2 separate regions of the Homo sapiens genome follow, and region 2 is linked to region 1. The links come from fine-mapping of genetic effects on gene expression. A gene starts in region 1. The other region holds a variant in brackets. All regions are shown on one strand. Distances are between the middles of the regions.

What was found. PIP is the estimated chance that this variant, and not a neighbour inherited with it, causes the effect.
Region 2: its variant is the best candidate, but not a certain one, in a credible set for the expression of MARCHF8 in whole blood (INTERVAL, PIP 0.69).

What each region holds. Positions count from the first base shown.
Region 1 is chr10:45,532,737-45,538,118 of GRCh38, forward strand. It overlaps MARCHF8 (membrane associated ring-CH-type finger 8), which reads right to left and starts at 2,635. Exons shown (of 8, transcript NM_001282866.2): 1 at 2,475-2,635; 2 at 374-553. The coding sequence starts at 475.
Region 2 is chr10:45,599,291-45,604,672 of GRCh38, forward strand. No RefSeq gene overlaps it. Among named protein-coding and RNA genes, the nearest start is that of MARCHF8, 67 kb to the left of the region's middle. The variant T/C (reference allele first, on the strand shown) is at 2,561.

The DNA of each region.
Region 1 (5,382 bases):
GGCAGACTAAGACACATATTAAGAAATTCCAGCCATCTGGTGTCCAAATTTCACACTACGATGAATAGGAAACTAGCAGCATCATGTTCTGAGAATCCAAAGAACTTAGTCACAGTGATTAACCAAAAATAATCAGGTAGATTTAACCAATGAAGATAAGTCATTTATAACCATTTATAAACAGTAGTTTACACCAAAATCTGAAAACCTAGAAATCTACAAAAAGACAATTCCTTCTGAGTACAACTATTTGTGTGCTTGTCAGTATATTATCAGAGAAAACCTGACCTTTAGAGTTTAAGCACTGTTCTAGGTCATCTTTAATAAAAATTTAATAAAAATAATGAAACTAAAAAAGATACTCTCCCAGTACCTGTTCTTCCCTCTCCTTTTCTTTGGTCTTACTTCTGTAGACTCTAGCAGAGATGGCATCCTGGGATGGAATGGCAGAGATCTGATGCAGTGGCATGCTCATCCCAACCTCTTATCTGGTCGTCTTCTTCACAGAAGAGAGTCTCCACTGGTAGAGTCATTTTGGGCCATGGATTTCAAGCTGAGAGAAAATGAAGAGAGAATAAACATAACTCAGCTAAAACACTTTAAATTTCCAAGAGTGAGCTTAACATTTTATACTTATATTCATATGTATATTTAAATAAGTTACGGCAACATAAATGTTTGGTCTTCAAAAACAATAGAAGATGAATGTCTAAGGGGAAAATTCTAACATTTCTCATAATAAGATGGGAGCACCTGAAAGAGGCAGGTGGATCACGTACATGTATAATCAGAGATATAATCTTCCATTGGCTACTTAGGATTAAAACAAAGCAGTGCCACCATTTATTTTAAGAATATTTTTGAAGTTAAACTTTTTTTTTTATCATGACCAAGCATTTGTCCTGAAATAAGCAGTGATCTTTCCTTAAAACCACTGTCTGTGAGTCCACATAATGGTGAGATCAGAGGTTAGGAAGTCCAAATTAAACTCAAGGTATCTATGATCCATACTTAACCTTCCAAAAGTAGAGACTCTACACGAGCTGTTGGCAAACTATTCCTATAAAGGGCAAGATACATATTTTAGGCACTGTGGTCCAAGTGTGTTCCAGCTAATTAACTCTGCCACTGTAGCATGAAAGCACCCATAGAGAGCATGTAAATGGGCCGGGTGCGGTGGCTCATGCCTGTAATCCCAGCACTTTGGGAGGCCAAGGCGGGCAAATCACGAGGTCAGGAGATCGAGACCACCCTGGCTAACACGGTGAAACCCTGTCTCTACTAAAAATACAAAAAATTAGCCAGGCATGGTGGCGGGCGCCTGTAGTCGCAGCTACTCAGGAGGCTGAGGCAGGAGAATGGCACAAACCCAGGAGGCGGAGCTCGCAGTGAGCCAAGATCGCACCACTGCACTCCAGCCTGGGTAACACAGCGAGACTCCAACCCCCCAACCTCCCCCCCACCAAAAAAAAAAGAGTATGTACATGAATGAGCATAGTTATGTTCCAATAAAACTTTATTTACAAAAATAGGCAGCAGGCTAGATTTGGCCCACCAGACTATAGTTTGCCAAACACTGCCGTAAAGGGTTTCCTAGGGAATATGAAGGGTCACCATGACATGCCTAAGAACCATGAGAAAGGCTGCCTTTAGGTAAAATAACAGTGTATGCATAAACTGTCTTCAGTGATTCCAGGTACTCCTGCCCTGTTTCTGGTTTTCTCTTACGCATCCCCCAAAATGTCTAATAATTGAATTGTGTGTTGTTCTTTCTCCCCACTTACCCACTGAGATCTATCCCACTCTGTATACAAAACCAATTAAACGTAAATTATCCAGAAGGTTTAATGTAGTAAAATGTTTCATGTTGTTCAAATTTTAACAGAAAATGGAAGCCTTCAACCAAAAGAATGAATCTCGAATTTGGAGATTTTCATTTATTAACCATGTGCTGGGGTAGGGGGTGGGGACAGGTGAGGCAGTAGGAAAAGGTAGGGTAAACAACAGGGCCTGACAACCCCAAGGTCACATTTGATAAGCAGTCACTTACTCTACCTCTCCCCAAACTCTACTCTGGATCAAAGGCAGGTGTTTGTAAGGCTGGTGCCAATTCTTAGTAGTGTCACTAAGCAAGCAGAGGAGCACCAGGAATCACGAAATGGCTTCCTTCACACAACTCTAGAATCAATGAACAACAAAAAGGAACAAAAACTGGGAGGGATCAACACATAGAAGAAAATTAGCTAAAATAATAATCTGTTTATAAAGTCTAGTTTTACAGTAAGTGAGTGACCATTGATAATAACAACAAAAAAAGGAAAATAGAATAGGGGATGTTAGTGTCTAGGTATCACACACCACCTACTCTATTTCAAGCCTTTGATGAGGCTGGCATAAGATGGAGCACTACTGTGCCCAAGAAACAGTCTGAATGTTTGTATTCAAGCACGTCACACAAAACAAGAGGCACTTACTGCGGAGCTGCCTTATACTCCCTGGGAGATCACAATAGTCAGTGGTAAGCAGTTTTTTCATCACTAATGCACTAACGTCCTCTATTACAGATGACAAACTCCATGGGGCCTCTTGGAATACTTGGTCAAACTGACGATATCCACAGCCCTATACCTACCATGCCAAAAGCTACCTGTGGTGCTTCTGATATAATCATCATTATTACATCATTGGTACATGCCCATGACAAGCCTGAGAAGGGCTATTTATGGCACAGAAACACAGATGCAAGAGGGTCTCAAATTTTTTACAGTTTTGAAGGACATCCCTCCTCACTGTCATTGAAGTTAGTCTTTTGATATGTACCACCACAACAAAGCAACAGACCTATAAGTTTGCCTGAAACAATCTCCCTCCTATGCCACACATATTTAGGATAAAAATGAGTTTACAAACAAACGATAAAACAGGCCATGCCATTTTTTATGTGAAGATTTACATGAAAAATACAAATCATATATTACATTATTTTCTTTGCATAATTTCCAAACATCTTTTATATCAACTAAATTAATCTTTACACAGAATAACAGTTAAACCTCAGCACTATGCCTCACAATCCAGGCATGAGGGCTTCAATTTGACTAATGCTAACTTGCAAAATACAGCCCACCTAACATGAACATTCACATCTAGAAGAGATACTGCCAAAGCTGGTTGTTGAAGAAATTGGAAATGGATGTCCATGTTCATGGATCAGAAGATTTAATATTGTTAAAATGGCAATTCTTCCCAAGTTGACATAGAGAGTCAAAGCAATCTCTATCAAAAACTGAGCTGACTTCTTTACAGAAATTTGACAAGCTGATCTGAAAATTTATATAAAATTCAAGGGACTCAGATCTGCCAAAACAACCTTGAAAAAGAACAAAGTTGGAGAGCTCACATTTCCAGATTGCAAAACTTACAACAAAGGAACAGTAATCAAGACTGTGTCATACTGGAATATGAATAGATATATCAATGGAATAGAATTTAGGGCCCAGAAATAAACCCACGTATCTATAGTCAGCTGATTTTCAAGAAGGGTGCCAAGATCACTTCTTGGGGAAAGAGTACTGTTTTCAACAAATGGTGCTGGGACAACTAGATAGCCACATGCAAAAGAAATTTGGATCTCTTCCTCACACAAAAGGAAAAACAGACAAACTACACATCATCAGAATAAAAACTTTTGTGCTTCAAAAGACACCACTGAGAAAGGGAAAACACAGCCAGTCATAATGGTTCACACCTATAATCCCAGAACTTTGGGAGGCCAAGGCAAGAGAATCTCTTGAGGCCAGAACTCAAGAAAGGCCTGGGCAATATAGCAATACTCTACCTCTATTTATAAATGTTAAAAAAAAAAAAGTCTAAAGACAACTGACAGAAGAAAAAGTTTGCAAATCATATATGTAATAAGGGACTTGTATCTAGAATATATAAACAACTCTCTTACAACTCAGTAACATAAGGGCAAGGCCAGGTGCAAGTAGCTCACGCCTATCATCTCAGCATTTTCGGAGGCTGAGGTGGGAGGACTGCTTCAGGCCAGGAGTTCAAAACCAGTGTGTGAAACATAGCGAGGCCCCATCTCTACCAAAATAATAATAATAATAATAATAATAATAATAATAATAATAATAATAAAGACAAATAACCCAATGAAAAATGGGTTAATCAACATCATTAGCCATCATGGAAATACAAATCAAAACTATTAGATATTACTTTAATTATGTTCATAATAAAAGACAAACAAGTGTTAGCAAGGATGTTGTGACACTGAAACCCTCATATACTGCTAGTGAGGATCTATGCAGTCGTTTTGAAAAATAGTCTGGCTCTTTCTCAAAAGGTTAAACATGTTATCATATGACCCAACAACTTCAATCCTAGGGTATATACACCAAAGAGAAATGCAAACATCTCCTCATATGAAAACTTGTCCATGAATGTTTCTATCACATTACTCATGATAGCCAAAAGGTGGAAATAACCTAAACGTCCATCAAATGATAAACGGATAAATCAAATAAGCTATATCCATTCAACGGAATCATATTCAGCAATAAAAAGAAATAAAGTACTGACACATGCCACAATATGGACGAACCTTTAAAAAGTTATGCTAAGTAGGCCAGGTGTGGTGGTTCGCGCCTATAACACCAGCACTTTGGGGGGCCAAGGTGGGTGAATCGCTTGAGCCCAGGAGTTCCAGACCAGCCTGGGCAACATGGCAAAACCACATCCCTACAAAAAACTCAAAACTTAGCCGGGTGTGGTGGCTCATGCCTGTGGTCCCAGCTACTCAGGAGGCTGAGTTGGGAGGATCGCTTGAGCCCAGAAGGTTGAGGCTACAGTGAGCCGGTATGGCGCCACTGCACTCCAGCCTAGGTGATACAGTGAGACCTTGTCTCAAAAAAAAAAAAAAAGAAAAGAAAAAAATTATACTAAGAAGCCAGTCACAAAGAACCATATATTACATGATGACAGTTGTATGGAATGCCCAGAGGAGATAAATCTATAGAGACAGAAAGTAGAGCAGTGCATGCCAAGAGCTGGGGTAGGAATGGGTAAACGGGAGGAAGCAGTGGATTCAATGATTTATTTTTAGGATAATGAAAATATTCTAAAATTGACTATGGTGCTGGTTGCAGAACTTTCGAGTATATTAAAGCCATAGAAATAGTAAAAGGACTAAGATAGATAGAGAAAATTTTAATTTTTCCTTTGTGTTATCCCTAATCTAACTAATCTAGATGACATGGAGATGGCTACTGTTGCCCTATCTCACTCACCCTTCCAGTTTTAAGAAGGCGATAGAAAGAGTACAAAGGTTGGGTTACCCACAAAGGGAAGCCCATCAGACTAACAGCTGATCTC
Region 2 (5,382 bases), 67 kb after region 1:
GAACTGGAACAGAGGAGTCCTGATCAAGTGAAGAAATGTTTCAGGAGACAAGTGCCTAAAGGTGTCATTTGCACTGAGAGGCTGAGTCAGTTGAGGATTGACCTCTGAACTGTCAGTGTAGAGATCACTGAGACCTTGGGAACAGAGCAATTAAGATAAAGTGGTAGGATTAAAAGCCTGATTCTTGAGATAACAGATGGTGACGACAAGTAAATACAATCATTGCTTTCTTGCTGTAAAGGAGAGCAGGGAAATAGGATCATAGTAGGTAAGAGATGCAGGATTGAGGTTTTCTGTTTAAATATTTATATGCTAATACAAATGCTGTAATAACTGGATGTACAAGAAAGTGACAACTGTAAGAAGGAAAATCTTGAGTAGATTGGAGGAGTCATCCTTAGATAAGGAAAAAACAAGAGAAGGGGAATAGCAGGCCACAGATACAGATAGCTTGGTAGATTCGTTGTTGAACATGAAACTGACCCAATAGTCCCATAGACAGTTCTTTTGGCCAAACATAGAAAGTGACCCTTCTTTTCTTAAAGCTCGAAACTTACATTTGTTTTATCTGAGTTCCTTTCTCGGGAAGGACCCCTGGCCTCTGAAAAAGTATCAAATAATTGAAACTTACCAGATTACCACATTCAGACAATGAGATGCCAGACCCTTCCTTTTGTTTCCTTACCGCTCCCTAGTTCGTGTTTTCTAACACACTGTTACACTTCTTCCCCGCTATATAAACCCCAAATTTTAGTCAGGGAGATGGATTTGAGACTGACCTCCCATCTCCTTGGCTGCAACACCTGATTAAAGTCTTCTTCCTCAGCAGTGAGCACCAAGACTTAGACAGAATCCCCGATGTTTCTGTATCATGTGGAATTTCTCTTCGATTGTTGATAGTTTAATAAAATAAAAGCTGAGCATGACAAGAGGGAGAGAGGTGCTGGTGGTTTGAGAAAGGAGAGCATGTGACTATCATCCAGGAGCTGCTACAGCCCAGCCCAGCCCTAGGATCTCCCACGTGGATGACTGCTGTATATTTCTCTCAACTTCCATCCTTGCCTCCTTACAGTCTTTTTTTTCCTACACAATCGCCAAAGTGACTTTTCAAAACCATGTCAACCCCAGTATTTTCCCAATTCAGAATAAAATCCAGAAGTGTTTGGCTCTAAGTCCTGCATGATCTAGCCCCTATTTCCCATCGTCCTCTCACTTGCTTTGCTCTAGCCACCTGACTTCCTTGCTGTTCCTTAGTCTCCTCAAGAGTAGAACATTTCCTTCCATTTCTGAGAGGTGACAGCGTGCGCCCTCGCTCGCTCTCGGCGCCTCCTCGACCTTGGCGCCCACTCTGGCGGCGCTTGAGGAGCCCTTCAGCCCACCACTGCACTGTGGGACCCCCTTTCTGGGCTGGCCAAGGCCGGAGCCGGCACCTTCAGCTTGCAGGGAGGTGTGGAGGAGGCGTGAGCAGGAACCGGGGCTGCGCGCGGCGCTTGCGGGCCAGCTGGAGTTCCCGGTGGGAGTGGGCTTGGCGGACCGGCACTGGGAGCGGCCTGCCGGCCCTGCCGCCCCGGGCAATGAGGGGCTTAGCACCCAGGCCAGCGGCTGCGGAGGGTGTGCTGGGTCCCCCAGCAGTGCCGGCCCACCGGCGCTGCACTCCATTTCTCGCCGGGCCTTAGCTGCCTCCCTGCAGGGCAGGGCTCTGGACCTGCAGCCAGCCATGCCTGAGCCTCCCCCTCCTCCGTGGGCTCCTGTGCGGCCAGAGCCTCTCCGACCAGCGCCGCCCCCTGCTCCAGGGCACCCAGTCCCATCGACCACCCAAGGGCTGAGCAGTGCGGGCGCACGGCGCGGGACTGGCAGGCAGCTCCACCTGCAGCCCTGGTGTGGGATCCACTGGGTGATGCCAGCTGGGCTTCTGAGTCTGGTGGGGACGTGGAGAACCTTTATGTCTAGCTCAGGGATTGTAAATACACCAATCGGCACTCTGTATCTAGCTCAAGGTTTGTAAACACACCAATCAGCACCCTGTGTCTAGCTCAGGGTTTGTGAATGCACCAATGGACACTCTGTATCTAGCTAATCTGGTGGGGAGGTGGAGAACTTTTGTGTCTAGCTCAGGGATTGTAAACGCAACAATCAGTGCCCTGTCAAAACAGACCACTTGGCTCTACCAATCAGCAGGATGTGGGTGGGGCCAGATAAGAGAGTAAAAGCAGGTTGCCTGAGCCAGCAGTGGCAACCCCCTTGGGTTACCTTCCACACTGTGGAAACTTTGTTATTTCGCTCTTTGCAGTAAATCTTGCTGCTGTTCACTCTTTGGGTCCACACTGCCTTTATGAGCTGTAACACTCACCATGAAGGTCTGCAGCTTCACTCCTGAAGCCAGCGAGACCACAAACCCACCGGGAGGAATGAACAGCTGCAGACGCGCGGCCTTAAGAGCTGTAACACTCACCAGGAAGGTCCGCAGCTTCACTCCTAAGCCAGCGAGACCAGGAACCCCACCAGAAGGAAAAAACTCCGAACACATCTGAACATCAGAAGGAACAAACTCCGGACACGC[T/C]GCCTTTGAGAACTGTGACACTCACCGTGAGGGTCCGCGGCTTCATTCCTGAAGTCAGTGAGACCAAGAACCCACCAATTCCGGACATGTTTCCTCACTTCCTTTATAGCTTATTTAAATGTGACTTTCTCGAGGTTGTCTTTGACCATCCTTTGTGAAACAGCACTCCTATCAATGTCACCTTCCCCTGCTTGGTTTTTGTTATTAGCACTTATTGCCATCTCTGGCAGAGATTTATAGCACATTAAATATCCATTTGCTACCAGCTCCTTTCATATAACCCTTGCAATTAGGTCAGGCCCTATAAACAATGGGCTGTGAGCAAAAAGGGGCATATACACATCTAGGCAAAAGCACCAAATGCAACCCTCCAGCTCTGTCTTCCCCTGCTGCAGTGATCTAGACCACATGTTGCAGTGGTGAAGCCACAGAGTGGACACAGCCTAAATCACTGAGTCACTGCCTGGGTCAGCTGTTCTGGGAAGTTGCCTGGCTCAGTGAGTTTTCCATGGTGGAAAAATAAACTTTGTTGTGTTAAATCACTGAGCTTTTGGGATTGATTTGTTACCACAGCATAATGTATTATCTGATATGGTCTAAATTGTGTCCCTCCACCCCCAAAATTCATATGTTGAAGTCCTAACTCCCAGATCTCAGAATGTGACTGCATTTTGAGATAGGGTCCTTAAAGAGGAGGTTAAAAAAGGAGATTAGAGTGGGCCCTAATCCAATATGACAGATGTCCTCATAAGAAGAGGTGATTAGGTCGGGTGCGGTGGCTTACACCTGTAATTCCAGCACTTTGAGAGGCCAAGGTGGGCAGATGAGGTCAGGAGTTCGAGACTAGCCTAACCAATGTGGTGAAACCCCATCTCTATCAAAAATACAAAAATTAGCCAGGAGTGGTGGTGCACACCTGTAATCCCAGCTACTCAGGAGGCTGAGGCAGGAGAATCGCTTGAACCTGGGAGGTGGAGGTTGCAGTGAGCCAAGATAGCACCACTGCACTCCAGTCTGGGTGACAGAGCGAGGCTCCATCTCAAAAAAAAAAAAAAGAACAGGCGATTAGGACACAGACACACACAGAGGAAAGACCGTGAGAGCACACAAGGAGAAGATGGCCATCTGCAAGGCAAGGAGGTGTCAGAAGAGCTGGTTTCTGACCAAAAATGTGAGAAAATTAATTTGTCCCTGAAGCCGCTCAGTCTGTGATACTTTGTTATGGCAGCCCTACAAATGAATGCAGAATCCTAACACCATCTGGCATATTTGTTTTATTTCCTCTAGAATATAAATGTGTGATGAAAGCAAGGATGTTTAGTTCAACACTGTATCCACAGTACTTAATTGAGCCTGACACCTACCAAAGGCTCAATTAATATCTATTAAATTACTGAATACTGCATTTTAATGAAAAAGTTCAAAGAAAATCTTTCTGTGGCTCTACTCATTTTGCTAACTTTCTCTAATAAATTTTTAGACTCCTCTGCATTGAACTTTATTTTCATTTCTAATTTTGCTAGTTTGCTTTTCTTTCTTAAGGTAAGGTTGATGTGAATTTGGTTGAAATATTTCAGGACAACTGCAATTTTATACAATTCCCAGTATTCACTTTTTTCCTAATTTCCATTTCCTCCTCTATTTTGGTTTTCTGACATCTTTTCTCAAGTTTTAGATTATAGTTTTTCTTTCTTGGTAACATGGACATTTCTATATTCAATCCTTTCTGGAATAAAGAATATAGCACTATAAATTTTCTGGTAATGACAGCTTTGATGGTGCTCTCAAAAACTTAATAGGTACTACTTTAAAATGTAGTATAATTGATTCTAGAATTCTTTGATCTACATGTGAAGATTTTTTTAGCCATTATTGCTATAGATTTTAATGACAGTATTTTGCAACACAGTATTTCTAAGAAGGCAATGCTGACTTTTATATTTTATATGAATTTTCCTGCCTCCAAAGTGAACTTTTTATAAAGCAATTATATAAATGAGAAAATGAAACCCCTACTGTTTGTCCCATTCTCTACAAAAATCTAAAAGCCACCTTGTTTTTCTCTGCAGACTCACTCTATCTACAATGGGTATCAAGGCACTTGGTACCTAGTCTATTCCACTTCTTTCTGCAGGTATCTTTTCTTAAAAGTTTTTTTTAATAAACTATTCTTAGAACAAGTTTAGATTTACTGAAAATTTGCAAAGGTAGTTCCCATACATCTCACACCCACTCTCCCCTATGAACATCTTACGTTACTATGGTATATTTGTTACAATTAATGAGCCAATAATGAGACATTATTTAAAGTCCATGCTTTCTTCAGATTCCCTCAGCCTTCCCTTTTCTGTTTCAGGACCCCATCCAGGGTACGACATGACATTTGTCAGTATGTCCCCGTACTCTTGGTTGTGACAGTTTCTCATACTTTCCTCTTTTCAATAACCTTGACAGTGTTGAGAAGTACTGGTCAGGTATTGTGTAGAATGAGCCTCAATGGACAGTGTCTAATGTTTTCCTCATGGTTACACTGGGGTTGTGGGTTTTGAGAGGAAGACTACTAAAGTGTCATTCTCACCACATGGTATCAAGTGAACACACTAGCAACATGATTTATGCCTGCTGATGTTGACCTTCACTACTTGGCTGAGGAGTTTGTCAGGTCTCTCCACTATAAAGTTACTCTTTTCTCCATTTCCAGACTGTACTACTTGGAAGAAAGTCATTATGCATAGCCCACACCTAAGACTTGAGGCGTTTGCTCCTCCTCCTCCTTGGGAGTGGAGTATCTACAGAATTCTTTTGTGTGGAGAATACGGCCC